2 separate regions of the Homo sapiens genome follow, and region 2 is linked to region 1. The links come from fine-mapping of genetic effects on gene expression. A gene starts in region 1. The other region holds a variant in brackets. All regions are shown on one strand. Distances are between the middles of the regions.

The links.
Region 2: its variant is fine-mapped to the expression of RARA in whole blood (TOPMed, PIP above 0.99).

Annotation. Positions count from the first base shown.
Region 1 is chr17:40,300,845-40,315,992 of GRCh38, forward strand. RARA (retinoic acid receptor alpha) reads left to right here and starts at 8,336. Exons shown (of 9, transcript NM_000964.4): 1 at 8,336-8,442. CDC6 (cell division cycle 6) reads left to right here. Exons shown (of 12, transcript NM_001254.4): 10 at 1-186; 11 at 624-764; 12 at 1,068-3,813. The coding sequence ends at 1,157. It overlaps LOC105371934 (a long non-coding RNA gene), which reads right to left. Exons shown (of 2, transcript NR_189654.1): 2 at 14,349-15,148. RefSeq lists enhancers at 7,763-8,648, 8,028-8,197, 8,208-8,337, 8,649-9,532, 11,122-11,622.
Region 2 is chr17:40,335,179-40,350,326 of GRCh38, forward strand. It overlaps RARA (retinoic acid receptor alpha), which reads left to right. Exons shown (of 9, transcript NM_000964.4): 3 at 13,138-13,286; 4 at 14,606-14,747. RARA-AS1 (RARA antisense RNA 1) reads right to left here and starts at 7,958. Exons shown (of 3, transcript NR_110861.1): 1 at 7,698-7,958; 2 at 6,818-7,512; 3 at 5,689-6,522. RefSeq lists enhancers at 6,236-6,814, 6,850-7,400, 6,887-6,936, 7,401-7,950, 9,051-9,601 and 2 more and silencers at 6,317-6,546, 10,307-10,356. The variant T/C (reference allele first, on the strand shown) is at 9,484.

The sequences.
Region 1 (15,148 bases):
CCTCTGATTCCCAAGAGGGTTGGTCTTATTCACATATCCCAAGTCATCTCAGAAGTTGATGGTAACAGGATGACCTTGAGCCAAGAAGGAGCACAAGATTCCTTCCCTCTTCAGCAGAAGATCTTGGTTTGCTCTTTGATGCTCTTGATCAGGCAGTTGAAAATCAAAGAGGTCACTCTGGGGAAGGTAAGTTGGGATGGAGCAGATGGAACGGAGGTAGAGATCAGAATCTGCTTTGCAGAGCAGGTATTTTCCAAAAGGCCTATGATACTTCAGCTGATAATAAATTTAAAATGGATTTTAACAGTAAGAATTAATACTGGTACTATATAAAAGGCACCTATTTCCCTTGGATTGTGGTTGAGAGTTTATCATTAATCCTTTCCCTATCCTCCCCTTCATTTCTGCATCTCTCTAGGAAATATATAAAGCCCCTTTCCTACATTACTGTATAGGTTTTCGGGAATATCTACAGAAGCCTGTTCAAAGATTTTATTGAAAAGAGGAAGAAATAGGGTATTCAGATAAGTTTTTGCAAACCCAGACTCAGGTTTCTTAAATGATTAAAGGCTATAAGCAATGTGACTTTTAAGCAGCGTTTGTTCTCCCTTGTTTCCTACCAGTTATATGAAGCCTACAGTAAAGTCTGTCGCAAACAGCAGGTGGCGGCTGTGGACCAGTCAGAGTGTTTGTCACTTTCAGGGCTCTTGGAAGCCAGGGGCATTTTAGGATTAAAGAGAAACAAGGAAACCCGTTTGACAAAGGTACAACTGCTTTTTTGTGACAGTGTTTTTAATTGTCCTATTTTGTAGAGTGATGCTAAAGTAAAGGTTTATTGTTAAACAAGATGACCACAGTTAGTTAAACAAGTCGTTTTTTGTTAGGTAAGGTTTAAGGTGTGTAAAGATGGGAGTGTGATATGAATATTTTTTCAAGCCATTGGAAAAAAAAGTGTTTAACTTGCTTGCCTTTTGTGAGAAAAAGTTTAATATGGTAGAAGTTTGTATACTGACAACTTTGCTTTTGTGAGTTCCCCAGTGTGAAAAATCCTTTTCTCTTCTTTCCAGGTGTTTTTCAAGATTGAAGAGAAAGAAATAGAACATGCTCTGAAAGATAAAGCTTTAATTGGAAATATCTTAGCTACTGGATTGCCTTAAATTCTTCTCTTACACCCCACCCGAAAGTATTCAGCTGGCATTTAGAGAGCTACAGTCTTCATTTTAGTGCTTTACACATTCGGGCCTGAAAACAAATATGACCTTTTTTACTTGAAGCCAATGAATTTTAATCTATAGATTCTTTAATATTAGCACAGAATAATATCTTTGGGTCTTACTATTTTTACCCATAAAAGTGACCAGGTAGACCCTTTTTAATTACATTCACTACTTCTACCACTTGTGTATCTCTAGCCAATGTGCTTGCAAGTGTACAGATCTGTGTAGAGGAATGTGTGTATATTTACCTCTTCGTTTGCTCAAACATGAGTGGGTATTTTTTTGTTTGTTTTTTTTGTTGTTGTTGTTTTTGAGGCGCGTCTCACCCTGTTGCCCAGGCTGGAGTGCAATGGCGCGTTCTCTGCTCACTACAGCACCCGCTTCCCAGGTTGAAGTGATTCTCTTGCCTCAGCCTCCCGAGTAGCTGGGATTACAGGTGCCCACCACCGCGCCCAGCTAATTTTTTAATTTTTAGTAGAGACAGGGTTTTACCATGTTGGCCAGGCTGGTCTTGAACTCCTGACCCTCAAGTGATCTGCCCACCTTGGCCTCCCTAAGTGCTGGGATTATAGGCGTGAGCCACCATGCTCAGCCATTAAGGTATTTTGTTAAGAACTTTAAGTTTAGGGTAAGAAGAATGAAAATGATCCAGAAAAATGCAAGCAAGTCCACATGGAGATTTGGAGGACACTGGTTAAAGAATTTATTTCTTTGTATAGTATACTATGTTCATGGTGCAGATACTACAACATTGTGGCATTTTAGACTCGTTGAGTTTCTTGGGCACTCCCAAGGGCGTTGGGGTCATAAGGAGACTATAACTCTACAGATTGTGAATATATTTATTTTCAAGTTGCATTCTTTGTCTTTTTAAGCAATCAGATTTCAAGAGAGCTCAAGCTTTCAGAAGTCAATGTGAAAATTCCTTCCTAGGCTGTCCCACAGTCTTTGCTGCCCTTAGATGAAGCCACTTGTTTCAAGATGACTACTTTGGGGTTGGGTTTTCATCTAAACACATTTTTCCAGTCTTATTAGATAAATTAGTCCATATGGTTGGTTAATCAAGAGCCTTCTGGGTTTGGTTTGGTGGCATTAAATGGCAATTTGTGACTGAGACACCAGAGGGCACCCTTATAACATTGACTACTTTGAAAGGGGATGCTTGAGGCTGAGGTAGTTTTGAGGGAAAGGGGGAAGTTCTAGTTTGATTTGTTTGGGAGATTGCTGTCCTTTCATAACTGAAGCAAATGCTTGAAATGTAAACCATGTGTGATACGAATGATCTGAGAGCCAGTGACCAAGTCTGCTTTTCCCTGAGCTCTCCTGCTGCCGCCTCTACCTTTCTGACATGGCCTTCCATTTGGAACTTGATATGTGTACAAGTGATCTGTTGGCCACTGTTTCATTCATCCTGACCACTGTATCCGTGTAATGTGATCTGAGCTACAACAGGTGGTATGGGATAGAGGCAAGGAAAGCAGAGAGAGCCCTCTGAAATGAACACTACCCACTGGTGTGTGTAGCACATGATAGTCTGTAGGCATGAGTCTGAATGTTGTTCTCACACTCCTTTACTAGAGTATTCGTTCCCTCTGAAGGTAGTTTGAACATGGAAACACAGTTCTATACCTAGAAGGTTGGAAAGTGTCTGGGACTATAAGGGTTAACATGCATAATTGCAAAGATTGTCCGAAGGCTGATGGAAAGCAGAGACTGAATGGGATTGAGAACAGATGCGAAGCTTGATTTAAATTACATTTTATTGGATGCTGCAGCCTTAAGAGACGTGACTGCTTTACAGTTTGTTTCCACACTGTGGGCAGCTGCTGTCTGTTCTGTGTCCACAGTAGGATCCTGCCCAATAAGGAGCAGCCTCCCCACCTCATTGTGTTTGAGGCTTGGCGCCTTCCTCTTAACTGTAGGGCTTGAGTCAGGAACATGGCTTGACTCGCAGTGGGGCTGCTATGTATCCTCCCTGGCTTCCAGCCAAAATCACATTGGTAGATTCAAAGGGGCCAAATTTCTTTCCCCTCTATCTTTCCCTTTCCCCTGGTTTTGGAAATAGAGTTTTCTGTCTACTGATTTGTTAGTTTCCTTTTCTTCTCCCCTCACTGTCAATTTCTAGGTCATTGCTGCTCTTAAGACTTTAGCAGTTGGAACAGGGTTGGTTCTGTCAATGATGCATGAAGCAGACTTAGTGTCCCTGCTTGGCTTCTGCTGCCCTTGTGGGAGCAAAAGCTGATATATGTTTGTCAGTAAAGTCTTAAGTGTAATTCAGACTGCTGAGGAAGAAAGCCCTTTCCTTGCTGGCTTTTCTCCCTGAAGCTGAGAGCTTCAGGAAGGTGGTAGGAGTTTTAGTGGGATGGGATGGGATGGGCTTGTGGTTAGCAGTTTTTGCCAGGATCATAGGCTGCTTCACTTAGAGTAGTGGCAAAGATGCTGACCTACATTCTTCCTTTTGAAGGTGATGGAGTGTGTGTCTATATCCTGGTTTATCTCTCTCCCCCACCCCAAGGAAGCTGATTAAGCTTCCATAGAGTGTTGGGTGTTGCCATGGAAAGAGCATAGACAAAATAAATTGTGTGTTTCAACCCCAGAGCTGCCACAGATGTTTCTGGCTCAATGGAGACTTGCCTGTGGCTAGCTAACTCTGCAAGAATGTGTGAGGTCCAGGCTGGGGGTGGTGGCTCACGCCTGTAATCCAGCACTTTGGGAGGCCGAGGCGGGCGGATCACCTGAGGTCAGGAGTTTGAGACCAGTCTGGCCAACATGGCGAAACCCTGTCTCTACTAAAATAAATTAGCCAGGCATTGTGGTGTGTTCCTGTAATTCCAGCTACTGGGAGGCTGAGGCAGGAGAATCGCTTCAACCTGGGAGGCAGAGGTTGCAGTGAGCCGAGATCGTGCCATTGCACTCCAGCTTGGGCAGCAGAATGAGACTGTCTCAAAAAGGAAAAAAAAAAATGCTGGGTGTGATGGCTCATGCCTGTAATCCCAGCACTTTGTGGGGCCAAGGCGGGCTGATCACTTAAGGGTCAGGAGTGCAAGACCAGTCTGGCCAACATGGCGAAACCCTGTCTCTACTAAAAGTACAAAAATTCACTGGGTGCCATGGTACACACCTATAATCACAGCTACTTGGGAGGCTGAGACAGGAGAATTGCTTGAGCCTGGGAGGTGGAGGTTGCAGTGAGATGAGATCATGCCACTGTACTCCAGCCTGGGTGACAGAGTGAGACTCTGTCTCAAAAAAAAAAAAAAAATGTGTGAGGTCTAAGCTACCCAGAGATCAAAAAGTTGGCAGAGCCTTATTCTCTCTGCGCCCCCTCTTTTGCATTGCTCCCTACCTTTACTAAGTGTCCCTTTGAATATACATCAAGCCAGGTGTGGTGGCTCATGCCTGTAATGCCAACACTTTGGGAGGAGGCAGCAGCGGGAGGATTACTTGAAGTCAGGAGCTTGAGACCAGCTTGGGCAATATAGTGAGACCCCCTTACCCTTCTCTACCAAAAAAATCTTAAAAATCAGCTGGGCATGGTGGCATGCACCTGTAGTCCTAGCTACTTGGGAAGCTGAGATGGGAGGATGCTTTGAGCCCAGGAGTTCAACTCGGCATGGGCTATGATCACACCACTGCATTACATCCTGGGTGACAGAGCGAGACCCTGTCTCTATAAAAGACAGAAAGCAGATACACCAATAAGAATGAGAAGTTGGGAATAAGATGTGATTTAGGTTTTATATATATATTATATACATATTATATATATTTTATATATATAATGTATATTATATATAATATACATATTATATATTATATACATATTATTTATATATATATATATATATATTTTTTTTTTAGATGGTGTCTTGCTCTGTCACCCAGGCTGGAGCAGTGGCGCGATCTCTGTTCACTGCAAGCTCCGCCTCCCGGGTTCACACCATTCTCCTGCCTCATCCTGAGTAGCTGGGATTACAGGCACCCGCCACCATGCCCGGCTAATTTTTTTGTATTTTTAGTAAAGATGGGGTTTCACTGTGTTAGCCAGGATGATCTCGATCTCTTGACCTCGTGATCCGCCCGCCTCGGCCTCCCAAAGTGCTGGGATTAGAGGCTTGAGCCACCATGCCTGGCCGGTTATATATTTTTTAAATATCTTGAGACGTGTTACCTTGACTGCTGAGGGAGGACAAAAGAGATCCAAGATTGAAATTTTATTTACATTTGTATCTGTGCCTAGCAATTAGTATAGTGCCTAATACCTGGTAGGTACTCAATAGTTGTTTAACAGATAAGTGAACCAAATAAGATACTGCCTTTCCCTCAGTGGTGAGAACAGTTCTAAGCTGAAGGTAAACGTTGGTGGTACTTTTGCACAGAGGTGGAGCAGGCCCCTGCATAAGAAGGGTGCTCTGTCTTACAAAATGTGTCTTGGCACAGTTTTGGAGCATTTATTAGCCTCACAGATGCATTCCAATCACTCCCTCTGATGTAGTGGCATTTTGCTTGAGGCAACTTCCATGTTGCTGGTGGGACGCTTTGGCTATGAGGGGAAGAGTCTTATCTACAGGCTGTGAAGAGGGCTGCCTGTCTGGATGTCACTCAGTGTGGCTAGATTGGCCAGAAGCTGGGTCTGTAGGCAAGGGTTTAGGGAGGAGCCCACCTTTGATGTCCCTCTTTTTAACTTGGGGCAAGTTGTGATCTCAGGTTCTTCCTGAAAAGATAAGGTACTTTCTAAGATACCTTCTCTTAAGCTACAAACAGTGCAGGTCTTCCTCTTAGAAGAGGTGTGTTCCGTAAGGGGAGAAGGTGTGCCCTCTGGCCTCCCCTTGATTTTCAACCCCAGCCCCAAGGCACTGGTAGTGGAAGTTAATTGGGTGCAAGGGGCTTGGGTAAAGGCTGAAGACTGGTGAAAGGAGAGAGCCAGCTTCGTTTTTTAAAAAGCTCTAATTGAGTTCTGAATCAGCCTCACTCCCTTTGATCCCTCCTCTGTTTCCCACACTGCCTGAAAGAGCTAGATCAGCACTTTATAACAAGGGTGCGCCTGCTCCCCGCACCGCCCCCCGCTCCTGACGCTCTCTGCTGCCGCCATCCACTGCTTGTCTCCTTCAGTTAAGATAATGAAGATGCTGAGAGATAAAATGTGTATTTAATAAGGGTGGGGGTAGGGAGGCGGAAAGGGGCAACCAGGGCCTTCCCTAGTTTGGGGCCTCGCCAAGACTTAAGCTGAAAGCAAAGCTAGAGTAAGACTTGGCCCCAGGGTGTGGGGGTTTCTGGGCCTCAATCCAGCTGACTTCACTGCCTGCTGTTTGCCCTAAATTCCCCCACCTCCACCCTCTCACCCCCACACTGCTTTCTTCTTGCTCCCAATGGGAAAAAGGACTCTTGCTTCAACTTTCTTTTCAGCTGGTAACTTGGCCTTTGGTGCGGTGCCCCCCACCCCAGTGTCAGCTGCAAGGTCGGGCTAGGGCAGCCCCCTCTAGCCTAGGCCTGTAGAAGCTGTGGGTTCACAGTGGGGGGTGAAAAAGCTGGAGTTAATGAAGACCAGCTGCTAGTCTGGGTTCTGCCTACAGCTAGCTGGAGGCCAGCCTTTGGTGGTGGTTGATGGGGGGGTGGGGTGACCTCCATCCATGGGCACAAGGATATCCTGTGGCAGCTAGGCTTGTGCTTCTCTCTGAGCTTAGTTTTATCCTTAGTTTATAAGAGAGTATCTGTTTCCTTCCCCTACTCCTCTCCTCCCCAAATAACACTCAGCTCTTATTGAACTTTATAACTGTAGTGGTGGCCCAGCTGAGATCTGAGGATCTCCAAACCCTTTTGTAAACACTCATTAACTGCCTGGGAAGAACGAAGAGCCCTGTTTAACAGCTGGGAGAGAACTGAGGCACATTAGGGTGAAAGGTTTGACCTAAACTCACCCCATGGACTCCACCCTGGGGCCTTCCATCCTTAGTCCAGCTCCTTTACTCAGTTCTTCCTGCAAGACAGAGGTGGAGGCATTGCTGGTGTCTTCTCCCCTTCTAGGGAGAGGCCATGCCCTCTCCCCTCAAGTCTGTCGCTGACTTCCTCTGGCCCTTCCCCTCATGACGTTTTCCCTGCTCTGCTGCTAGAGATATGTGCAACTCTCCTTGCAAAATGTTCTCAATCCACAACTTCAGAATTCTTATCCAGCTTTCTCTTGCCCATCTAGCCCACCAAACCTGAATTCTCCCTTTTGAGCTACTGAGAAGACTGGCTATACTAAACTGAATCAGTGACCTTGAAGTTGATCTGTTGTATTGAGGTCCCTCTGCCCCTATATTTATCCTAAATGGTATCTAGGAAAATATTCTCTCTTTAACTTGTTTATTCTGGTCATAAAGATTCGGGACATTACTGAGGGCTGGGTAGGGGCACTAGTTGACCTCTAGGTTCTACGTCCTGTTCTTCCACTGACAATTACCATTTCCAGTAATAGGTGTAACCCAAAGTTCTTTTTTGTTTTTTTCTCCTTCCCTAACCCCACCTGTTTATACTCTTGCCTATATATGTGTATTTGCAGACCCCACACATTCCCAGATACACATACATTGGTCCTACATGTTTCCCCTGTTTCCAGCTGCCATCTAAGTGAGCCTGCACTTTTTACATGCTGAAAATCTTTTTTCACCCTCTATGGCCTCCTAGGTCCTTGGGAATAATTGGGAGGGATGAAGGGACTCCTGCAGTCCATGAGGAAGAGGACAGAAGTGAGCGCCCAACCAAAATGAATGCTCCCTTTCCAAAATCTCTAGCTGAATGCCTTAGCAGGAGTGGCAGGGAAAGAGATCTTAACCCCACCTCCAGCACCAAAACCTAAATCCATCTGCTCAGGGCAGGCAGGAAGAAATGTCTATTTTCTCCTGTTTCAGGTCATCCTATCCTCGAGTTATCCATATGCTGTGTATTTGAGACAGGGAACTGTTCCTGTCCCCAGCCGATGACCAGACGCCCATCTTTCTTCCAGTGGGTTACTTCTCCCCCATCAGTCCTTCGCTCTGCGCCCGCTGACCCAGTCGGGGCTGGCTGGTGGAAGAGGGCGGGGAGAGCCTTCTAGTTGGCGAGTGGGCTTTAGGACCCAACGGGAACCCGTGCCTCTTGCAGCAGCCTAACCCAGAAGCAGGGGGGAATCCTGAATCGAGCTGAGAGGGCTTCCCCGGTTCTCCTGGGAACCCCATCGGCCCCCTGCCAGCACACACCTGAGCAGGTAGGACCATGCACACCCCTTCCCAATTCTTTGGCCGCCTTTGACCCCGGCCTCTGCTTCTGATCTAGCCATTTCCTTCTCGCCAGTTCTGGCTTTCCCCATCCCTCCTCTCCCGTCGCTCACTGTAGTCCTGGGAGGTGGGAGCCTGGGAACAGTGGGGTGTCTGAAAGCTCAGAGCCCTCTGCACCCTCCAGCACCCTTCCTGCATTTCTCCTGAGGCAGTTCCCGTTCTCTAGATAAGAGTGGGGAGTAGGGGGAAGGTCTGCCCAGGCCCCACGCCCTTGCACCCTCCTTTGCGGTATTGCCTAATACCCCTTCCCCCACCTCACCTAGACTGGAGAATTGGCAAGTGCTGAGGTAACAGAGAGAGGAGAGAGCCAGAGAGGGACCTGAGCTTTCCCAAGGGATTTCTTTCTTGCTTCCTCACCCAAAGAGCTCAGGACTTTGCCCCTACTCCCTACACACCTTGTAGGGGAACTAATGTCCCCTTCCAGGTTCATCTCACACTTGGGTGGCTAAAGGCTTTGCTAGAGGGTAGTGGAGGTTGTGAGCATTTTGGTGAGCTTTTCCTCTAGGAAAGTTCTTTCAGCTTAGAGCCCCCATCCATGTCAACATTTCAACACCTGCTGCAGAAGCCCCCCGACCCCACCTGTGTGTGTGTGTGTGTAGGGACAATGTGGTTGTAAGATCTAGAAGCTTTGGATAGAGGTGGCTGCATGCATTGAAGGGGAGGGATACCAGAGTGTGGCCCAGGCCAGAACAGGCTCAGTCCAGATGGCTAGGGAAGGGGGTGTGGACCAGATTGAGGAGGTCACCCAGCCTTGCCAGCTCCCTGAGCTTCTTGGCTTTCAGAATCTCAGGCTCCTGGTGTTTCTCTAGAGCTACAAGGTCCCCAAGCTTCTGCCCCGCTACAGGCTCTCTGGGAGAGGGCTAGATGGCACCTACTGTTTACAGTGGCTTATTTTTCTCTCCTGTGGTGGGCAGACAGGCCCTGCTCTCTGAAGATCTAGGGCGTGTCATTCTGGTTTGGTGGGTTTACAGGAAGGGTGTACACCTTGTCTGACTTACCATGTGTGAGTGTGTGTCTTGCTTCTGGGGGTAGTAGACTGGGGAGGGGGGTGATAGAAGAGACTGGTCACACTGAGGGAACTCCTCTAGCAATCAATGTATGATAGGAATGGGTGGCATGTCCCCATCTGGTAGCTCTGTCTAGGTGTGGGGTGTGCTCTGCATTCTTCCATGGCTCCCCGGGTCCCCTAAAGGTTGGTTTTAGAGGACAGGGTGGATAATGAATTGGCTTCAGACTTCGTTCTGGTCTTGATCCAACAAGGAAAGTAGAGATTCTGACTGTGAGCAGTGAACTAGGAATCAGAGGCCTGAACTGGAGACTTAGACTGGTTACTTAACTATATGTGTTTATATAGGTCTTCCCCTTTGCTAAGCCTTAGTTTCTCCATTTGTAAAAATGGCTATCAGTAGCAAGCAGGGACATTGCCACTAAAACCACAGAGACAATGTATCGTAAAGCTCACTGCAAACGGTAGTAATGGCTGGGGGAATCTAGGATGGAATCCTCTTCCTAAATCTAGGTCAATCTCTCCGCCTTTAGTTTTCTTCCCCCATCCTTTGCCCATCTGGGGGATGGAGGAACTAGGCAGGGCTATTGCCCCGGTTACTGCAGAATTCCCCTAATGCAGGTTGTAGCTGTTACCAGAGCACCTGTGGTCACAGAGTACAGATCTCTCCACCAGGCATTTCTTCCTCTGGGGCCCCATACTTGCTCCCCTGAGCCATGTCTCCACCTTCCTTCTGCCATCCCTGCTTGGCGTCCTTGTCTCTCTCTCCCCTGCCCAGTGGCCTCCTTGTCTGGCTCACTGGGCAGGAGCCCTAATCGGATTCGACAGCTGAGATATGTGTGGCGGCTAAGAGCAGGCAGGAGGGAAGCCAGTGGGAGGATGGTATGAGGACTGCCCCTGGCACTGCCCCGGCCTCCCAAGCACCACCTTGGGCCTGCTGATTTCTTACTTGGCTTGGCCCCAAGGAAGGGGTGCCAGAGGAAGCTCAGGAATGAACAGGCTGGGGTCTGGAGACTAGGAGAGGAGGAAACACACCAAGGTCCTCAGGACCTGGTTGATATTCGATGACCTTAATGTCAGTGTCACTGACTCTGACAAGGAGGAAAGGACAGCGATGAGCCAGGCTGACCCCCGCCACCCCATTCCCATAGCCCCACTTTCTTCTCTCTTCTTGTTCAGAAATGTTTCACTTTGCCTCATCTAGCCCCTTTGGCCAGTAGGTCACATCTGGGAGCTTCTGGGGGTGCCACATGTCTGCCTCAATCTGGGCTGTTTCCTCCCCTCCAAGATATTTCACTGTCTCTGGGCTGGGCGCCAGGACTCCTGGGTTTCCCTGCCTGTGGTGCAGGGCTCCCCTGCAGGGCTCCAGAGAGTCGCTTAGCTGGTTTCCTTCCTCCTTTGTGGGGAGGGCCTTCCCCTAGGGCTGGGAGGTGTCAGGAATCCCAGGTGGGACAGGGGTGGGGGCACAGTAGCCTCTGGCACTGTAGCACCCCAGCTTCTCCCTCCTAGCCTCTGACTCAGCTTGGGGGCAGCACATGCCCAGCCTGGCAGGCATGGCCTATTCTTGCCTCCAGGCTTCTCTCTTTACAGAAGCCTACATCTCCTGCTCTCATTTTTTAGTTTTTTTCCCCATGATATCTGCAGGTGGCTAGTGAAATCCCTGGTTTTGGGGAGCAAGGGACTAACATAATTGAGGCTGGGGCACTATTTTGTCTTCCCTCCAGTTGGGCCAGGATGAAGGAGACTGTCACAAACTTCCCCAAGCCAATTCCTTCTGCCCTCAAAAGACCAGTCAGTGGAGCCAGGCCCTGCCCTTTGGGTGCCCACAATGTGGTTGGCACTGATTTGTCAGAAATTGGGAAGGTTTCCCTCTAGACCGCTTGCCTCCTTTCTCCTCCTCCCGCAGGGTAGGGGCAGCTCTGTGATTGCAGGCACTTATGGGCAGGCCTCCCCCTAGGAAAGGGGTGTGGGATGCCCCCAGGATGGCCAAGTTGGCGCTAGCCCCAGGCTGGAGTGCTGGACATGATTCTGACCTGGGAGTTAGTGGGGGTAAGGCAGGGCATGGGCCTCCCTGCCCCCCTCATTTCCTGCTCTTTGGGCAGCTGTGGGCGAGAAAGGCTGCAGGGACTATTTTTAGTTGGTCAGTCCCCTGGCAGGAGGGACGTGCAGAAAAGCACGGGGCAGGCAGAGGGGCTGGCCAAGGTGAGGGTAAGCAGGCAGGCAGAGGAGTGAGGAAGGGCCAGAGGGGCAGAAGACAGCAAGGAGGCATGGGGAGCAGGGGCAGGACCTTACCCAGAGGGGCATGACCCAGGTAGATGGGCCGGGCTGGACTGGGTGGAAGAGTCCTGGCACCCTACAGGGTTTTCTTTATCCAGCTGGACTCAGAGCTGGAAGGGGTTTTAGAGGCTACCTAGGCAATCCCTTCCCCTTGCAGAGAAGGAAACTGAGGCCTAGAGAGAACACTCAATCAGTCATTGGCTGTGTTGAGACCTGAACCCAGGCCCTCCCTTTGCACCATTTTTCTGTTGTCATGGTTCCTCACCACAGCTCAGTGTGCTTCCCTTCCCTACTGCAGCAAGGAGGACCACGAGCCAGGCACACCTGGTCCATTTTCCCATCTGCTTTTTTGTGCAGGGTCTCTGAAAATCCCAGCTTGGTTTGTTTATAAGTCTCCATGTGGAAAGAGTCTGTGTCCAGGCTAGAAGGAGGTCAGAGTTGGGTTTGTTTGGGTGGCCTGTGGCCACTGGTGTGAATGGAGCTGCTGGACAGGCTCCAGCAGGCTCACAGGCTGGTGAGCTGTGGGGCTAGGAGACACCTTACAGAAGGGACGTCCAGACTCCCCAGAGCCCTTTGTGAGCCCTCCTCCTGCCCTGCCCAGGACCTGTGGGTCATGGTGGTTGTTTGCCCATCTCCCCAACAAAAGAAGGGAGCAGGGCTGAGGAGTGGGGAGATTACTACTGGCTTCTGATCGCTAGTCAGAAGGAGGCCCCCTCTGAGGCCTGGAGGCAGGGAAAGTTGGGGCAAGTTGGGGTGTGTATGGGGAGAAAACTCAATGGAGAATTGTGGTCCCTCAGAATTCAGTCTGCTTTCTGTCTTCTGCCTCAGGCTCTCCCCACAGGCCACCATGCTGCACAGCTGCAGGGGGAACCATTCCATAGACTATGATGTGAATGGCACCCCCTGGGGTTGTTCAAGGCCCTGCCTGTGTAGCCACACGTGGTGCATCTGTCTCCCACCTTCTTCCTTCAAATTAGTTCAGACCCACCTGGAAGGAGGTGTTCCAGACAGGCCTTAATCCAACACCCTCTCCCCTACCCTGCCTCATGCCACTCAACATCTCCTATTCCTCTGCTGCCCACCCCCAACGCACCAAGCAAGTCATGGTGCACCACCAATTGTGGTTCAGAAGCCCCTCCCCTTCTCTCTACGCAGTTTCTGTGTCTCTTGGGGGCTGATTTATCATACCCCCCATCAAGCCTACTGCAGTGTGTGAGAAATCAATAGTGCAAATGGATTGAGGCTGTTTAGCCTGTCAACTCTCCTTGGGCCCCACCAACTCTTCTGGGACTTGCGGAGTTGCTCAGTCCCCTTCTGGCTCAACATACACATATTTAGTGGTTGTAGCCAGAGCACTGAGCACAGGAATTATTCTTTCTGTTGGTCTCTGTCTCATTCTCTCTCATATACTAGGCTGGTCTTAACATGACAAATACTCTTGAACATTTATTTTCTAGCTTGGGTGGACGGGCTTAAAGGGCAGTAGGCTGCCAGCCAGAGGTAGGGAGGGAGGCAGGTGGGTGAGGGATATGGCGGGTGGAGGGGTGGGGTGGGGGTGGGGACGAGCTGGGGAAGGGATTGGGTGACAGCCCACCCCATCAGCTCTGGTAACTCAATCCCTGCACCCCACCCTCCCAATTTCCCTCCTGCTCAACAACTTCAGCAGCTGCTGGCAGAAGCAAGGCTGGCAGAAGTGTGTTTGAGTGCATGTGTATATGAGGGGAGAGGGTGAGAGGGGCTGTGGGGGCAGGGAGTGCTGCCAGGACATGTTAAAGGAGACTCACAGCCTGGGTACAACTTGGGTGGCAGGAGGAGGTGGGGCAGGTGGGAGAGTGGGTGGTGAGTGATGGGCAGGCTGCAGTGGGGGCAGGGCAGCACAGGGGTCTCACAAAACTTGTTGGCACTGGAGCGGGGCCTGGTGTGGTGGGGGTGGGCAGTGGTGAGGGGGCAGGGGCTGGCACAGACATTGCTGGCCCCAGAATGCTGAGGCCCATTCTTTGCCAGGGGGCGCATGTAACCATGGAGGGACAGTCTGCCCCTGTCTGCAATCCTTGGGCTGTGCCTGCTGGGCATCACAGTCTTGGTGGTGACTAAGTCACTTCTGTCCTGGGGCTGGCAAGGTGCCAGGCTCAGCTCTTCTCGGTAGGTGAGTCACTGCCCTGGCATCTCCCCCGGATGCAGCTGAGTCACCCAGCCATGCCTGCTAGGCAGGTGGGCACCAGGCTTGTGGTGGGGGTGGAGGGCTATGTGTGCAGCCCCCAGTGTCTTCTCTGATCTCTCTCTGGCATGTCCTGGCCCCACCCATAAACCTGCAGAGCCAGGCAAGGATGGCGCTTCTCCCTTGTGATCCACTAAGGGGTGAAGGAAAAGGTAGCAGGGCACAGAGTGGAGTCATACATGTTTGATTTGGAGTAAGTAGGGGAGGAAAGAGTTGAGGAGGGAACATTGATTGGGTTATATGTATATATATATATATATATATGCTTATATGTGTATATATATATATATATATATATATATATATATATATATACACACACACACACACACACACACGTATATATTTATTTATTTTAACAAAAAAGACACAGGGTCTTGCTATGTTGCCCAGACAGGTCTTGAACTCCTGGAGTCAAGCAACTCCTGGCGTCCCATCTTGGCCTCCCAAAGTGCTAGAATTAAAGGTGTGAGCCACCATACCTGGCCTGGGTTTGAATCCCAGCCCTGCCATTGACAAGCTGTATGACGTTGAGGAAGGCAATTTTCTTTTTGAGCCTCAGTTTTTTCATCTCTACAATGGCAACAGGAGCCTGCCCCTTCAGGACTGTGAGAATCAAATGGAGTGGGACTATTAAGGTACTTGTGGGAGGAGCTCCTTTTGGGATGAGCTAGGAGGCTTGGGAGGGGAAGAGGAGTCAGCTGGAGCTGGTTCCAACAAACTCCCGCACCATGGTCTTGGAGGGCCAATTGCTTCTCATCATCTCTTCGGAGTATCACTTAATGCTGTTCTTCAGGAGTTTCCACAGGCTGTGAGAAGACAGCCTTGTTGTACTAGAAGTGTGGGCCCTCCTAGGGTGTCTCAGAGCTATATTTTATCTCTTTTGACTACTGAGAACTGCCACTGGCCCTGGTACCTGTCCAGACTCTCTTCCTTCACTTCCTCTAGTTTGAAGAGGGATGGGGCTCAGACTCCTCCCCCAGCCTATCTCCTGTGTGCAGGGAAACAGTAGGCCCCAAGGAGTGTCCTTCTTAGAGTGAGGCGCCCCGAGCCTGTGGCTTTTCTCTCTCTGCTAGTTTCCTGCTGCTCCCTGGGTACCCTTCTCTCCTCCTGCATCAGAGTCCCTGGTGGGAGG
Region 2 (15,148 bases), 34 kb after region 1:
GGGAGAGTCAGCCTGTCTGTGTGTTGGTGTTGGGGCTGGGAGGGGGAGTGACTTAGGGCACAGAGTGTTTAAAGAGGAGTGGTCTTTCGTTTGGGTTCTTAACCTTTCTTGGCTGGAGGGGAGAACTGATCTGCCTTTTTTTGTTCACCCTGGGAATTCCATGGGCAAAGGGGTCTGACTGGGGGCTGTGGAGTAGGCATTTAGTGCTGAGTTTAAAACTTGGACACTGGGCTGGGCGTGGTGACTCATGCCTGTAATCCCAGCACTTTGGCAGGCCAAGGCGGGCGGATGACCTGAGGTCAGGAGTTTGAGACCAGCCTGGCCAACATGGTGAAACCCCATCTCTACTAAAAATACAAAAATTAGGCAGGCGAGGTGGCACGTGTCTGTAATCCCAGCTACTCGGGAGGCTGAGGCTAGAGAATCGCTTGAACCCAGGAGGCAGAGGTTGCAGTAAACCGAGATCATGCCACTGCACTCCAGCCTGGGGGATAGAGCGAGCCTCTGTCTCCGAAAAAAAAAGATAATAAAATAAAACTTAAGACACTGGCTGCGTGCAGTGGCGCCTGCCTGTAATCCCAGCACTTTTGGAGGCTGAGGTAGGGACTTCAGCCCAGGAATTTGAGACAAGCCTGGACAACATAGTGAGACCCTGCCTCTACCAAAGAGAAGAAATTAGCCAGGTGTGGTAGCGTGTGCCTATAGTCTCAGCTACTCGGGAGGCTGAGGTGGGAGGATTGCATGAGCCTGAGAGGTTGAGGCTGCAGTGAGCTATGATCACGCCACTGCACTCCAGCCTGGTGGGTGACAGAGCAAGACCCTGTCTCAAAAACAACAACAACTTGGACATTTATGTCACATACAACTTGCTGATAACCTCTCTGAGCATGTTTCTTTTTTGTTGTTGTTTGTTTTGAGACGGAGTCCTGCTCTGTCGCCCAGGCTGGAGTACAGTGGTGCAATCTCTCAGCTCACTGAAACCCTCTGCCTCCAGGTTCAAGCGATTCTCTTGCCACAGCCTCCTGAGTAGCTGGGATTACAGGCGCCCGCCACTATGCTGGACTAATTTTTTTGTATTTTTAGTAGAGATGGGGTTCCTCCTTATTAGGCTGGTCTTGAACTCCTGACCTCAGGTGATCCGCCCACCTCGGCATCCCAAAGTGCTGGGATTACAGGTGTGAGCCACTGCACCTGGCCAAAGACATTTATTCATTTATTTATTTATTTGTTTTAGACAGAGTCTAGCTCTGTTAGCCAGGCTGGAGTGCAGTGGCACGATCTTGGCTCACCGCAACCTCTGCCTCCCAGGTTCAAGCCATTCTCCTGTAGCCTCCCAAGTAGCTGGGACTACAGATGCATGCCACCATGCCCGGCTAATTTTTTGTATTTTTAGTGGAGATGGAGTTTCACCATGTTAGCCAGGATGGTCTCGATCTCCTGACCTCCCAATCCGCCTGCCTCGGCCTCCCAAAGTGCTGGGATTACAGGCATGAGCCACCGCGCCCGGCTTGTTGTTATTTTTTTGTTTTGTTTTTGAGACGGAGTCTCATTCTGTCACCCGGGCTGGAGTGCAGTGGCTCGATCTCGGTTCACTGCAACCTTTGCCTCCCGGGCTCAAGCGATTCTCCTGCCTCAGCCTCCCAAGTAGCTGGGACTACAGGCGTGTGCCGCTACGCCCAGCTAATTTTTGTATTTTTAGTAGAGGTGGGGTTTCACCATGTTGGTTGGCCAGGATGGTCTCCATCTCTTGACCTTGTGATCCGCCCGCCTCGGCCTCCTAAAGTGCTGGGATTACAGGCATCAGCCACTGTGCCTGGCCGTGACCCAGACCCTTTGTAGGTGGGAGCTGGAGAGAATGGGATGCTAACATCTATAGAGCACCTACTGTGTGTCAGGGGCTTTGTCTGTGTTTTACAAATTTTAATCCCTGCAATCCTGGAAGAGGGACATTATCCCCACTTACACAGAGGACACAGTGCTGGGGGAGGTTAAAGTACTGCAGAATCATGACTGTAGGATTGTAAAGCTGGGCTGTTTTCCACCATCTACATAGGCAGCTTTGAGAGTGGATTGTGGGGCACACTCTTGGGTGTGGGAAGTGTGGGGGGTGGGGCTTAGTGCTGACTGAAACCCCCTTCCCCACTGTAGAGGCCCTTTCTCTGCCTTAGAACCTACCTTTCCCCGGTAGGGGGTGTAGGGAAGGCCCAAGCCATACCCCCTCCTCTCTGTTTTGGATCCTGAAGGCTGGAGAGAAAGAAAGATAAGGGGCCTGGGCCAGATCTCCATCCTGTCCTGGAAGCTGTGGATACAATCTGTTCACACCATCCCCACCCCCAAATCTGCCCGCTGTAGCCCACGGGAGTTTGCAGAACTCAGCGGGCACCCTCCCCCCGATCTCCAGACACTGAAGGAACAGAATGTAAAAGCCACAGTTCTTATTCTTAATTTGTTTCAATTTGTGGATGGAGGCAAAGAAGTTGCAAGCCATCAACAGAGGAGCCGGGGATGGGAGCCCCAAAAGGGTGGCTGCATGTTTGCTTCGTGTGCCTAGAGACTGGGGAATGCCCGAGGGTCTGGGTGAGCCCCAGCAGAAGGCAGAAAGGAGGAGGTTGTGTCCTTCCCTTCTTCCTATCCTCTGCCACTTCCTCGCTGTTGCAGTCTGTGCATACTGCCTCCTTCCCTGCTTCCCACTCTTTCCCTGGACAATAGGAGGGACAGCCCAGGCGGAGGGACAGCCCAGGCAGAGGGACAGCCCAGGTGGAGGGAGTGCTGCCTAGCAATGCCTTTCTTGGAGTCCGAAATGTAGAGTCAGACAAAAGAACATGACATGGAGTTTTTAATGAAAATGGGGTCCCTCACCTTTTATCTCCCAGCAAGGATAATGCACAGGTTCCCTCTGGACAAGATCCCAGCATAGACGCGGGGAGGGAACTCAGGGAAGGAAGCCCGTCTTCCTTTTAGGTGGGTCAGGGCCGAGGTATTGTGTCTACCCCATGCCAAGGGATGTGTTGCTTATGGGGCTGTACCAGTGCAGGCCTGCCTGCCCTTTGAGGGAGTAGTGTCTGTGGGAAGAGGAAGTGGTTTCCATCTCTAAGTCATTTTGGGGCAGTGCCTTCTTCCTCCTCCTCCTCTGTGGAGTTGGGGCACAGCGAGGGATTGGGCCTCCCAGGGTTGACTGGAGGCCACTCAACCTTTGGCTGTCAGAAATAGAGGTGCTCCCCTCCCCATTTTGACTTCTGGGTTGCTGGAAACCTCAACCAGCCCACAGACCAAGGGCCTTCCATGGGCAGGAGTCTTAAAGGACAGTTCTTCCTGTGTGGCCTTGGGCAGGTCACCCAAGCTCTCTCCAAATCTGTTTCCTCCTCCTTAAAGCAAGACTTCTGGCTGGGCACGGTGGCTCACACCTATAATCCCAGCTACTCGGGAGGCTGAGGCAGGAGAATCACTTGAACCCGGAGGTGGAGGTTGTAGTGAGCCGAGATCGCGCCATTGCACTCCAGCCCGGGTAACAGAGCAAGACTTGGACTCAAAAAAAAAAAAAAAAAAAAAGCGTGGGCACGGTGGCTCATGCCTGTAATCCCAGCACTTTGGGAGGCCGAGGTGGGAGGATTGCTTGAGCTCAGGAGTTCAAGACCAGCCTTGGCAAGATAGCGAAATAGCGAAACCCCATCTCTACAGAATATACCAAAATTAGCTGGGCATGCTGGTGCACACCTGTAATCCCAGCTACTTGGGAGGCTGAGGCATGAGAATTGCTTGAATCCGGGAGGTGGAGGCTGCAGTGGGCTGAGATCACACCACTGCACTCTAGCCTGGGTGACAGAACGAGACTCTGTCTCAAATAAATAAATAAAAATAAAAAAATAGAGCAAAACTTCTAATCTCTCCTTGGCTGGGCGAGTTGCCGTTAGGCCACGGTCGCCTGCTTCCTGCTGAGGCCCTTGGTGAGTTTCACGTACCCAGCAAGGCTGTGATAGTGAGGGGCAGGGTAGAGCTGGGTACTGTCTTGGGGGATGGTGCCACTCTATACTGGGAGCCAGTGTCCACCTGGCACTGGGCCTCATGATTTCCTGTTTGTTGTCCCCTCCAGATGGGGTTGGGGACAGGAGGGGGCCCTGCCTGGCACAAGTGGGGGCCAGTTTGGCCTGCACCTGCTGAGGGCTTACTAAACGCAAAGCCCTGAGAAGGAGCTGAGGGAGGGATAAGGCTGAGCAGGATGGGGCCCCAGGCCTGCAGACAGCTGCCGCTGGAGGCCCCCCAGCCCCAGCTGCGGGCCAGAGCCTTCCTTGTTTCCCACTTCTCCCACTGCCCCAGGACACTGTGTTCTGCTCTGACCTGCCCCATGACCTTGCTGTTGCCCAGAACGGGCCTCTTGCCCTAGCTTCTCCTCTCCAGCTCCGGAAATCCTATCTATCCTTCAAGGAACATCTTGAATGCCGCCTCTTCCCAGAAATCTTCACAGATGTTCCCCCTTGCTTGCCACACTCTGCCTCCCTACTTAGAATGCCTGTGGGTCCTTATTTATTTTTTAACAACACTCATCTCGCTACCCAGAAGTTGCTTCTCCCCTGTTCCTGCCATGAGCTGTAACCATTTGGGACATCTTTTCCTGACCACAAGGTCTTTGATGGCAGGGACAGAGTCTCAGGTCCCTTAGCGCCTTGCAGCTGTGAGCGCAGAGCCTTGCTCCATCATTTGAAAGATCCCGAAGGCATGGAAGCACTCTGTCCTCTTCGCCATTAGTCTCATCCACTGTCAAGATTTGCATACCTGCCCCCAGACCCCAGCATTCCATCTGTAGCCCTGACTGCACTTCAGGGCCCCACATCCACCTGTCCAGCAGCCCAGTGGACTTCTCTGCTTTGCAGTCTCAGGAACTTCACTGATGCGTAAGTCACACACAAGTCTCTTTGCTACCTCTTTTCCCATACCCCTTACCCCCACCCCCCCACGTTATTTGTACCTTTAAAATGTTTATTGAATCCACCTTCCTCTGTCCATCAGCACTTCCAGTTTCCTAGGCCAAGCCACCCTTGTCTGATGCCTGGACTGCTGCAGTAGCTTTTACCTGGTCTCTCTTGCCCTCCTATAATCCATTCTTCACACAACTACTGGAAAGATCTTTTTACACTGTAAATCTGATCTTTCCTTTGCTTGGAACCTTTCTATGGCTTTTCCTTGCATTTAGGATAAAATCCAAAAGCCTTACTGAGGCCTATAAGCCCCCCTGGTCTGGCCTGAGCCCACCTCTCTAGCCTGGTCTTGTGTACCTTTTCCTTTTGAATTTTGTGCCCCATGATTCTAGCCTTCTGCCAGTTCCTTCAATGAACTCATCAACTGCTGTAACCCCAGGGCCTTTGCACAGACTCGCCCTTTAACTGGAACTACACTCCTTTCTACTCTTTGCCTGATTAACTTACAAACTTTCTCTTATGGTAGGTCTGTTTTATTTGAGTTCTTCCCTAATTTAGTTAAACCTAAATTAGGTACCTATGTTAATTCTTCAGAGCATAATAGCATTTATCTCAGTTTGCAATTGTGTGTGCATACAGTGATTATTTGCTTAATGGCTGTTGCTCCCTAAGGTCTACAAGGGCAGGTTCCCCAGGGTGTCCACATAGAAGGTGCTCAGAAAAATACCTTGAATTGGCCTAGCTTGGTAAGAACATGGGCTTTGGCAGCAGGAAGTTCAAATACCTGCTCTACTCTTTATTATTAGTAATGTGATCTTGGACAACCCACATAGCCTTGCTGAGACCTGTTTTATTTGTAAAACATCTCTTGGAGTTGCTGTGAGGATAAAATGACAACATATATAAAGAGCCAGGCTTCTTCTAGAAGAATGTCCTTGGGTAGCATGTACATTTCCATCCTTCCTTTTAGAGAGTGGGGGTAATAGGATACCCCCTCCTCCAGGGGTATCCCCTCTTTCTAGGGACCTACCCAAGCTAGGCCTTTCTTCCAGTGAAACGTGCATCCCGAGGGCTTCTAGGATGAAGTAGTCCACTGGAAGGCACCAGCTCTTCCTTTTATCTCTCCAGAGCTGGACAGTGCACCAGGGGCCGGTACTGGTTCCCCAGCTAGGAGACACCTTGGGCGGGGCTTTGCTCGCCGGAAGCACGCAGAGCGTGGGGAGGAGGGCCCCCTCTGCCTGTGTTTGTGCCAACAGCACCCGCGCTGCCGCGTCGGGTTCCGGCGGCCGGAGTCACACATGATGTCACAGACAATGACACAAGCCGGTGTCTCATTCCGACACAGCGTCCGAGCTGCACAATGTCACACCCGGGTGCCAAACACTTGGCCCCGCGCGACCCGGCCCTACGCCTCCTGCCGCCGCTCTCCGCGTCTCCGGGGGAGGTGGCCCGGTTCGGCCGGGCAGGGGGCTGGCGGGCGAGCCCCGCGGGCGGGCTGGCGAGCGGGTGATGTCACGGGCAGCGGTGGGTGGGTCACTCGGAGGTGAGGCGCCGCCAGGCGAGTTCAGCGAGAGTTCAGCCGCATTGCATTAGGCAAATGAGGCCCGGCCTGGGTGGGGGTGTGTGTTAAGGGGAGGACACCGGGACCACCCCCCTCTTCCCCGCCCCACCACCTCCTCCACCACGGCTTCGCTCGGCCAGGGACTGACCAAACCTTGGGGGAGCCTGGGAGCCGGAACTGGTACAAGGGAGGACGCCCGCCCCTCTTCCGTCCTTGTCCCCTCGCAGCCCCCTCCTCTCCCTGTACTCGGCGTCCCTCTGTACTCTGTGTACTCCTCATCTGGAGCCTTTCCCCCTTCCTGCTTCTCTCCTCTCCTCCCCCTTCCCAGGCTGCCCCCACTTGCCTGTCCACATGCCGCCTCTCCCTCTCGGTTCCCTGCGTTTCTCCCGCTGCAGCCGGACGCGCCGGGAATGGGTTAAGCCAGGGGCGGTGCCTGGACGGGGCGGGGCGGTGGAAAGGGGGTGGTGCCCGGAGGGGAGGGGGCGCGCAGAGCTGGGGTGGGGGGGCCGTGGCGCGTACCACCAGAGACCGAGCGAGTCGCCAGCTGCCCCTGGCCTGGCGGGGGCGGAACCGCGCGGGATCCCCACCCCCACCCGGAATCCTCGCCACGGAGAATCCCTGGAGAAGCCCCGGATCCCCGGCTGGGAGGAGGAAGTGCTCGTTGACCCCCAGCCCCGCGCTGATCCCGCCCCCGGCCTGCGGACTTGGGGAGCCGCTGTACTCTGCCTCGGACGCCACGAGACTCTAGACGGGAGTCCCCTCGAGGTGAAGCCGCTGAGTTCCCGGGCCCCGCCAGGCTTCCCTGGGAGAGCCGACGGACCCCCCCTCCCAGCACACACAACTTCCCTGCTTTTCACCGGGACTGGCGGAGCGGCCGGCGGACTTAGACGCGGGGACTTCAGGGCAGGGGGCGCCCCCTGCCCGGGTCACCAGTCGGGGCGAGGGGACGTCTCCTCTCCCCCAGCTGCTCTGCTCGGATGGCGCCGCCGGCTGAGTGACGGGGGCGGCGCGCAGGACTTCCCAGCTCGGACCTCTTGCCTTCGAGGGGAAAGATGTACGAGAGTGTAGAAGTGGGGGGTCCCACCCCTAATCCCTTCCTAGTGGTGGATTTTTATAACCAGAACCGGGCCTGTTTGCTCCCAGAGAAGGGGCTCCCCGCCCCGGGTCCGTACTCCACCCCGCTCCGGACTCCGCTTTGGAATGGCTCAAACCACTGTACGTACCGGCCTCTCAGTCTGCTGTTGTAGGGGGTGGGAGTGGGCGGTAGGGCTTCCACTACTACTCGGGGGTGAGAGTCCCGGGGTGTAGTGGAGGTCCTGTCTCTACCTTTCACTTAACCCGTGTTGCCCTTGCTGGACAATTGAACCCTCCCGGCCGCACCCTCCCCCCAGTAACCCTAAGTGCAATTTGTGTTAGATTAGGGCTGAGGAACTTTGAGAGTTCCTTCTTTCAAGCAACATTCCTTCATCTCTTGTTTCACTTCTTCCAGGAGAAATGAAGCCCAAGCCCCTTGCCCCCAGTTTATATCTTCTTGCCTGGAATCCAACAGCTTCACAGCAGGCTGGAGGGTGGGGTAAAGGTCCTGTCTGTGTGGGTTTGTCTGCTCCCGGGGGAAGGCCCCCCCGCCAGATCCCACTTGCCAAAGCCCGAGGGAGAGCCCCTTCCTGTGCGACAGCTGCTGCCCCCAGCCCTTGCTCTTGCGTCATTAGAGTGGGTGTCAGGGGAGCACTCAGTGTCTTTGGTATTGACAGTGGGGTGTGGCAGAAAGGGGCAACTTCATCAGACACCCGTCTGCCATCCTAACCTTCCATCTTGGCAAGGGGCACTGGGTCCTTATGGGGTTGTTGTCCTGGCCCCAGACACTTGGCTGTCATCTTTGAGGCTTTCATCCCCAGGAGTGGAGGGGAGAAGCTGCTCTGGTGAGAAGAATCCCTCTCCCCCTAATCCTAATCCGGTTTGTTCTCTGGGGAATGAGTTTGTTTTTGTGGGTCTGGGGCTGCTCTGGAAATGAGGACTGCATCCCTTCCCAGCTCCGCCACCGAGTCCTTTTGTTACCCTGACTTCACTTGGGGATAGGGCCAGGTCCTGGGCTGTGCCTTCCTAAGAGGGGCACTGATGAGAATCCTAGCATCCTGGCAGCCTGGTCACTTTCTCTCCTTGTTGCCCCCTGCCTGGGTGCAGGCTCCTCTGGGAGGAAGGGCTCTGTGCACACTCAGGAGCTCGGAGCACCAGGGTGTACACCTGGGCATTTTCCTGCGCAGCTGTGAGGCAGTGTACACTGGGTGGGCGGGAGCAGGCGCAAGGGGGTTATTGTTAGATGGCTCAGGTTTCTTCCCCTCCTGGGCTTTGGGCTCTTTGCTGGAGGGGAAGCTCTTCCGTGGAGGATCTCCCACCTTCCTGGACCTGCTGCCTCCCTCCTGCCTGCCAGGGAGGAGGGGTGGAGTGGGTCTCGGGGGGGCCCTGGCAGATTGGAGAAGGTTGAAGGGCAAAGGACTTACCCCACCCCTCTTGCTGGGAGAAGAGAGACCTGAGATGGACAGACAGCCCACCTCTGCCCTCCCAGAGCCACTTCTATCCCAGCTTTTCCTATTGTCCTGCCCCCGACCATTTCCTCTAGGGCCGAATCTGCTGTGTGGCTGTAGACACAAGAGGGAAGGTATCACCCTTGACTTTGGAAGAAGAGAGAGTGAGAGGATGACTCTAGGACCCTTTTTCTCATTCTCCCAGTGCTGGAGCAAGACCCCCCTCCCCTAGGGGGATAGTTGGAGCAGGGCTGCCAGAGTCACCCCTTCCACTGCCTTGGCCACCTTCTCCAGAGGGCTGGAGAGAAGCTGGGATCTGAGACCTTGGTCTCCAGCCCCTGTCTCTTCTTAGCCCATGGGGACAGCTCAGCTCTTCCTGGCCCAGAACTGGAGAGGGAGGAGGATCACAGAGAGTAGGACAGGCAGTGTATTGGTGAGCCCTTCCCCTAAACCACTGGACATGGGGAAGTGGAGACCTGTCCCCACA[T/C]CCATTCTGGGGTGGGGTAGTAGACCTAGAGGCCTGGGTTTCCAGTTCCCGTAGTCTGAGCGTGGGTGTGCATATATAAGTGAGTGAGGTGTCAGTGGACTCGGGTCCTGAGGCTGTGAGGTTGGGAGTGATGGGGGTCTGGGGGCTTGCCTTGAGGCACAGGAAGGACCCGGAGTCTGAGGGTGGCAACTAGACTCAGTCTAGAATATGTGGGGCCAATGCCACCACCTTGGAAGGGTCCCCTTGGGTGTGTGGAAGTCCGCTGGTGACTGGAGCTGCCTCCAGCCCCCTCTTGGGGAATTCTCCACTCTCCCCTTTACTGCCACTGAAGGTGGGAAGAGCAGGTTGGCTCTGGGAGGAGGTGGCCTGGGTTCTGCAGGGCCCTAGGGACATTGCCTCCCTCCCCAGAGCCCTCATTTCGGTGCATTAGAGGACAAGGGGGGTGCACAGGATGTGGCTCCCCATCTGTCTCCCACCAATCTCCGCCACTCACACCTCCGCCCGCTCCCAGACGTCCAAGAATGTGAAGCACGTGGATGCCCGTAGTTGGGGGAGGGGGAGACGCTTATCAGGCGGCCGCTGGGCTAGGGGCCTTCTTCCGCTGCCGCGGTACACCCAGAGCTACCCCCGCCTCTCCCCGGGAGGAGGAAGGACGGTACAGAGGGCCCTACGCCCCCTCCCCAACCATCCCCAGGGGCTGCGAGGGGAGCTGCGGAGGAGCGGGCGCCAGCTGGATTGGGAGGGGAGCCGCTGGCCGGGGGCCCGGCTGATTTCCTGCTGATCTCCTCCAGGAAACCGGCCCCTTGTGCGAGCCTGCGAACGGCTCGGGGGCGTGGGGAATCCGGAGTGGAGCGCTCTGCGCCGCCCGCCCTGCCAGGATGGGGAGCGAGGGAGGGGCACCCTGGCAGCGTCGGCGGGAGGGGACGCCTGGCTTCCTGGGTCAGTTCCAGTCCTCTGTTGGGCGCTGGAACTTTGAGCTGAGAAGGTGTGGTCCTTCTCTAGCCCGAGTCCTTCTGCAGGAAGAGGAGAGATTGGTGGGCTGGGCCTCTGGGGAGGGAGGTTAGCAGGGATGGGCCAGGCCCGGGCAGTCCCTCCCCCGTTGGTGTCCCTCCCCACTCCACCTGTGTGTGCAGGGAGTTATGGCCGTGTCCTAACTCTTGCAGAGGCTGTGAGGATTCCGGAGTTCCCCACACCTCCGGCCTTGGTCCTTGTACCTCACCTCCTTGGACTGCTGGCTGGAGGCCTGGGGAGGTGGGGCATCGAGCTCTGGGTTCAAAGGGCAGAGCAGGGAAACCTCAGAGCTGGGTTACCTGGGTGACAGGTGGGGATGTGCTGGAGGTAGGGGGCAGGCTATGTTACAGCCTCCAAGGCAGTCAAGCTGCCGTTGGGTGGGCTAAAAGGAGGCCTTGCCCAGCCTAAACTGTAGTCCTTGCCTCTGGTCATCTCTCCCATTCTGCCAAAAAATAATTTTAAAAAGCACATTCTCTCAGTTCCGTAAACACCCTCTGTTGGACTTTGCTTTAGCTCCATGTTTTTATGGCTTTTTGCCCTCTAGTCTGTCCCAGGCCTTAGAGCTGTTTACCTCTCATCCTGGTATCCCCCATGACTCCCCATACCCTAGCTCCCCTCGTGACATCCCGCTCTGTACCCCCAAAGCTCCCTCAGTCCTTTCTCCCTCTCCAGTCTGGTTCATTTTAGAAGTGGGGCCTTGGGAGAGGCGGGGCCCAGGGCAAACGGTGGATTAGGAGGGGTGGGGAGGTCAGTGCCTTCTTCCTCTGCTTGTCGGAATGCTGACCAAGATTCTAGGCCATGGTCCCCCCAACCCTCCACATACCCCCTTGCCCTTGATCTCCCCTCCCCCCACCAGTCTGGATTGTCTATTGTTACTGCTTTTACGTCTTGGAAAAAGTTAGCACAACAAAGGGCTGCTTTGTGGCTCACCCCCTCTGCCTCCTGGCCTCACCCAGGCCCCCCAACCCCGCCCCCCCAGCAGCTGTTCTCAGGCCTCTCAGCCTGTCTGATTTGCTTGTCTGGCCTGGGGAGAATGAGGTGGGAGAAAACCAGGCCAGGGCAGTTGGTGTTGGAGTGAAGAGCAGACGGCGGTGGGGAGGTCAGGAGAGAATCTGCTGGGCTGGGGATGGTGTGGGCATCAACTGTCCCATTGCTGCAGGCTGGTCTTGGGGCAGGGAAGGGGATGGGGGGCCATAGCAGTGCTGGTCAGCCAGGCTGGCCTGGGAAGTGGTGCCCAGGCACTACTAAGAGCCAGGAAAGCCCTGCCAAGGTTGTTGGCCTAGTTCCCTGTCATCAGCCGCCTAGCAGCCCCCACTGTGTCTGCAGGTAAGGGGGGAGGGTGGTAGCACATAGTCAGCCCCTGGTGTTCCCATGCTTCCTTCCTCTGTGCCCCAATTTTAGGGCCATGTGATTTGGGGCTATGTGACTCATGTCTGTAAGGTGCTTGGGCCAGGAGCTGTGGGCACCTTTAAATGCCAGCCAGTCTCATGTGCCGGAGTTTGGGGTAGGGCTAGGTAGGATTGTGGAATATGGGAGGAGGCAGGGATCTGTCTACCTAGGGAGGCATCCTCATCCATCCTTGGCCCTGGACAAGAGAACTTGAACGTTGGTAGGGGCCTCAGGACGATGCTGCGTGGCCCCTTGGGAATCTGGGATTGTCCTGGTCATAGTTCTTATCTTGCACCCAACACCCTTAGCTGCCCAGGCTTTGGACATGGATAGCCCCTACCCAACCCAGCCCTGTTCTGCCTACAGTGATGGGCATGGAGCCAGACACTGGGGAGGATTTGGCCAGTGAGGGCTGCCCCTGCTGTCTGGGTCACCCCTCCTGGCTGCCCTCTTGGAGCTGAATAACAGAAGGGGAGGGGTTAGTAACCCGGACATAGTATTGAGGCCAGACAGACAGAGCATTGATGGGAACAGACCCCCTTTGTCATGCCATCTCTCCCCAGATGGGGGGTACCCAGAATAATGGGCTTTTGGGGCCCTGGGGACTCTTCTCCCTGTATTCAGGGTATCTCCCCCTATCTCAGGGAGACACCTCCTACTGTGCCCAGCATTTGTGACTCTTCTTTGCACCCCCTGCCTTGGGTCCCTGGCCCTGGGATTGTTTGGGTGGAGGAGGGGCAGTGGCTGCTGGCAGAATGGGGTGGAGGGGGGAGCGGAAGCAGAGGGGGCGGGGGAGTGGCCGGCTTTGAATATCCTGTTGACCCCAGTTTCCTCTGCCCCCAGCTTATGTCCTCTTCCCTCCCTCCTCTTCAAGCGTTAACTCCTTCCTAACTCGGGGGGAGAACGGGGCCAGGCCGCCCAGGGGCAAGAGCTTTAGAATCAGGGTGACCCCCACCCCTACTCCCCAAGCACAGTCACGGCACACATACAAATGTGATGGTTTATCATTGTATCTTTGTGGTTTTGAAGGTGGGGGTCCTAGGAGTCCAGAGGAGTGATGGGGTGCTGGAGGCTTCATTGGCAGCCTCCTGCCCTGAGTCTGGCTGGGGAGTCCCAGTTTTCTTAAGACTTGAATCCTGCCAGCAGTGGTGAGGCTGGGAGAGGCTCTTAGGAGGGACGGTGAGGCAGGGTGGAGCTTGGTACTAAGGATGGCGACCTAGGTCTCTAACTGCCCCTCCCCTCTTCTCTCTCTAGCCATTGAGACCCAGAGCAGCAGTTCTGAAGAGATAGTGCCCAGCCCTCCCTCGCCACCCCCTCTACCCCGCATCTACAAGCCTTGCTTTGTCTGTCAGGACAAGTCCTCAGGCTACCACTATGGGGTCAGCGCCTGTGAGGGCTGCAAGGTGAGTTGAAGGGGTCATTGGGAAGGACAGCTTGATGAGGTCAATGGGATGTCCCCACTTCTGTGTCCTGGGAGTGTGCAGTTGGGGGGTGTCCCTGAAGTTGCTGCTCTTCTTTCTCTGTGGAAGTTGGCAGCAAGCAGGGACACCTACCACAGTTTCCCCACAGGTCCTCCCCCATAAATGTGCAGGGCTCCCTCAAACCAGAGGTCCCCTCCTGCCTCAGCTCCTTTCCCTGTCTCTATCCTCCAGCTGGCAGGGCGTACGCCTGCTCTGCCACCGCTGCCCAGGTTGCCATGGTGAGCTGGCTGCCGACTGGCTCTTGGCTGGGGACCCAGGAGGCCTCCCCCGGCGGCCCTGCCTGAACCTCACCATGGCAGCCTGGCAGGAGGCAGTTAGGAGCAGGCACCCTGCCTTAGCTTCCCCTTCAGGTGCCCGGGCTGTGGGCTCCCCAGTGTCTGGCTGGATTTCCCCATCCTCACGTTAGGTGCCAGGGTGCAGGTATACCTGGTCCTTAGCAGCCCTGCGCCCGGCTTCTCCTCCTTTCCCTGGGGCCTGAGCCTCTGTGTGCGTTTCTTCCTCCAGAGATTGGGGCTCAGAATCTTCACAGCTTTGGGCCTTGCAGCTCTGGGCTGCTCTTCAGCCTGGAGTAGCTATCCCCAGATGTGGGACGGAGGTCAAGGGCAAAGCACAAGGACTCAGGCTGTGTGTCTGCCTGTCCTGTCTGGTTGTTCCTGGTCTGTTCTTCCTCTGTCCGCCTGTCCCTCTGGTCAGCCTGTATGTGGAGCCCCTGGCCAGCCTGGGTCTGTGTCTGTGATGGGTCGGTGCACACCTGTCTTGGTGAACTCACATCTTTCTGCCTTGCTCCTGAGTGCATGTGTGTGTTCGCCTCCATTTCTCTGGCCAGCCCGTGTATCTGCCTCCTGGCCTCTTCGGGCTTGTCTTCTTTTCCTGTGTTCTGAGTTCAGGGGTGTGGGTTCCAGATCCCTGGCTGTTGCCCAGTTAGCCCCATGTCTTCCTATTTCTGACTCACCAGCAGCCCTGAGGTCTTTTCCCTGGAAGGGAGGAGTCAGGTGTGTGCTGTGGGTTGGGGGAAGACTCCTGCCCATCCTGCAGTGTTGAGGCAGGTACTGGGATTCTCCTGAGGAGGATCCTTTTAGGTGAATCATTCTCCCCAGCTTTTCTGGCCTGCTCAGGTAGGCGATGGGCAAACGCTTGGGGGCAGCAGCTGGCCTGGCCCTCCTCCCCTAGACTGAGACCGTAGCCAGGCACTGCTCCCACTGTGGGTGTGGACAACCTGACTCCCTCCCCTCCATACCCAGGGCTTCTTCCGCCGCAGCATCCAGAAGAACATGGTGTACACGTGTCACCGGGACAAGAACTGCATCATCAACAAGGTGACCCGGAACCGCTGCCAGTACTGCCGACTGCAGAAGTGCTTTGAAGTGGGCATGTCCAAGGAGTGTGAGTGCCATAGGGCAGGGGCCGAGTCCCGCCTCAGTTGGGGTCTCAGATGCTCCTAAAGACCAAGGGAGCAGGGCTCTGTGGATGTTTGTGCACATGCATGAACACGCATGCCGTGGTGTGCGGGCTCACGGTTGAGGATGGTTTGTGTGTAGCTGCAAGGACCTGTTTGCGAGTCTGGCTGGCTGTGTGTCCACGGGCAGGTCTGTGCTCCGGGACCGTGTATGTGTAACCATTCCTGTTTCTGCACGTCTGGCTGTGTGTGCTTGCGTATGTGTGTGTGTGTGCATGCTCCAGGATGGCTTTCTTCCAGGCCGTGCTTGGTTTTGGGGTGGGGCTCAGAGGCATAGGCAGTCCCTTCTGATTGTGAGTCTTAGGGGAGGGGCTTGAATTCTGAGGGG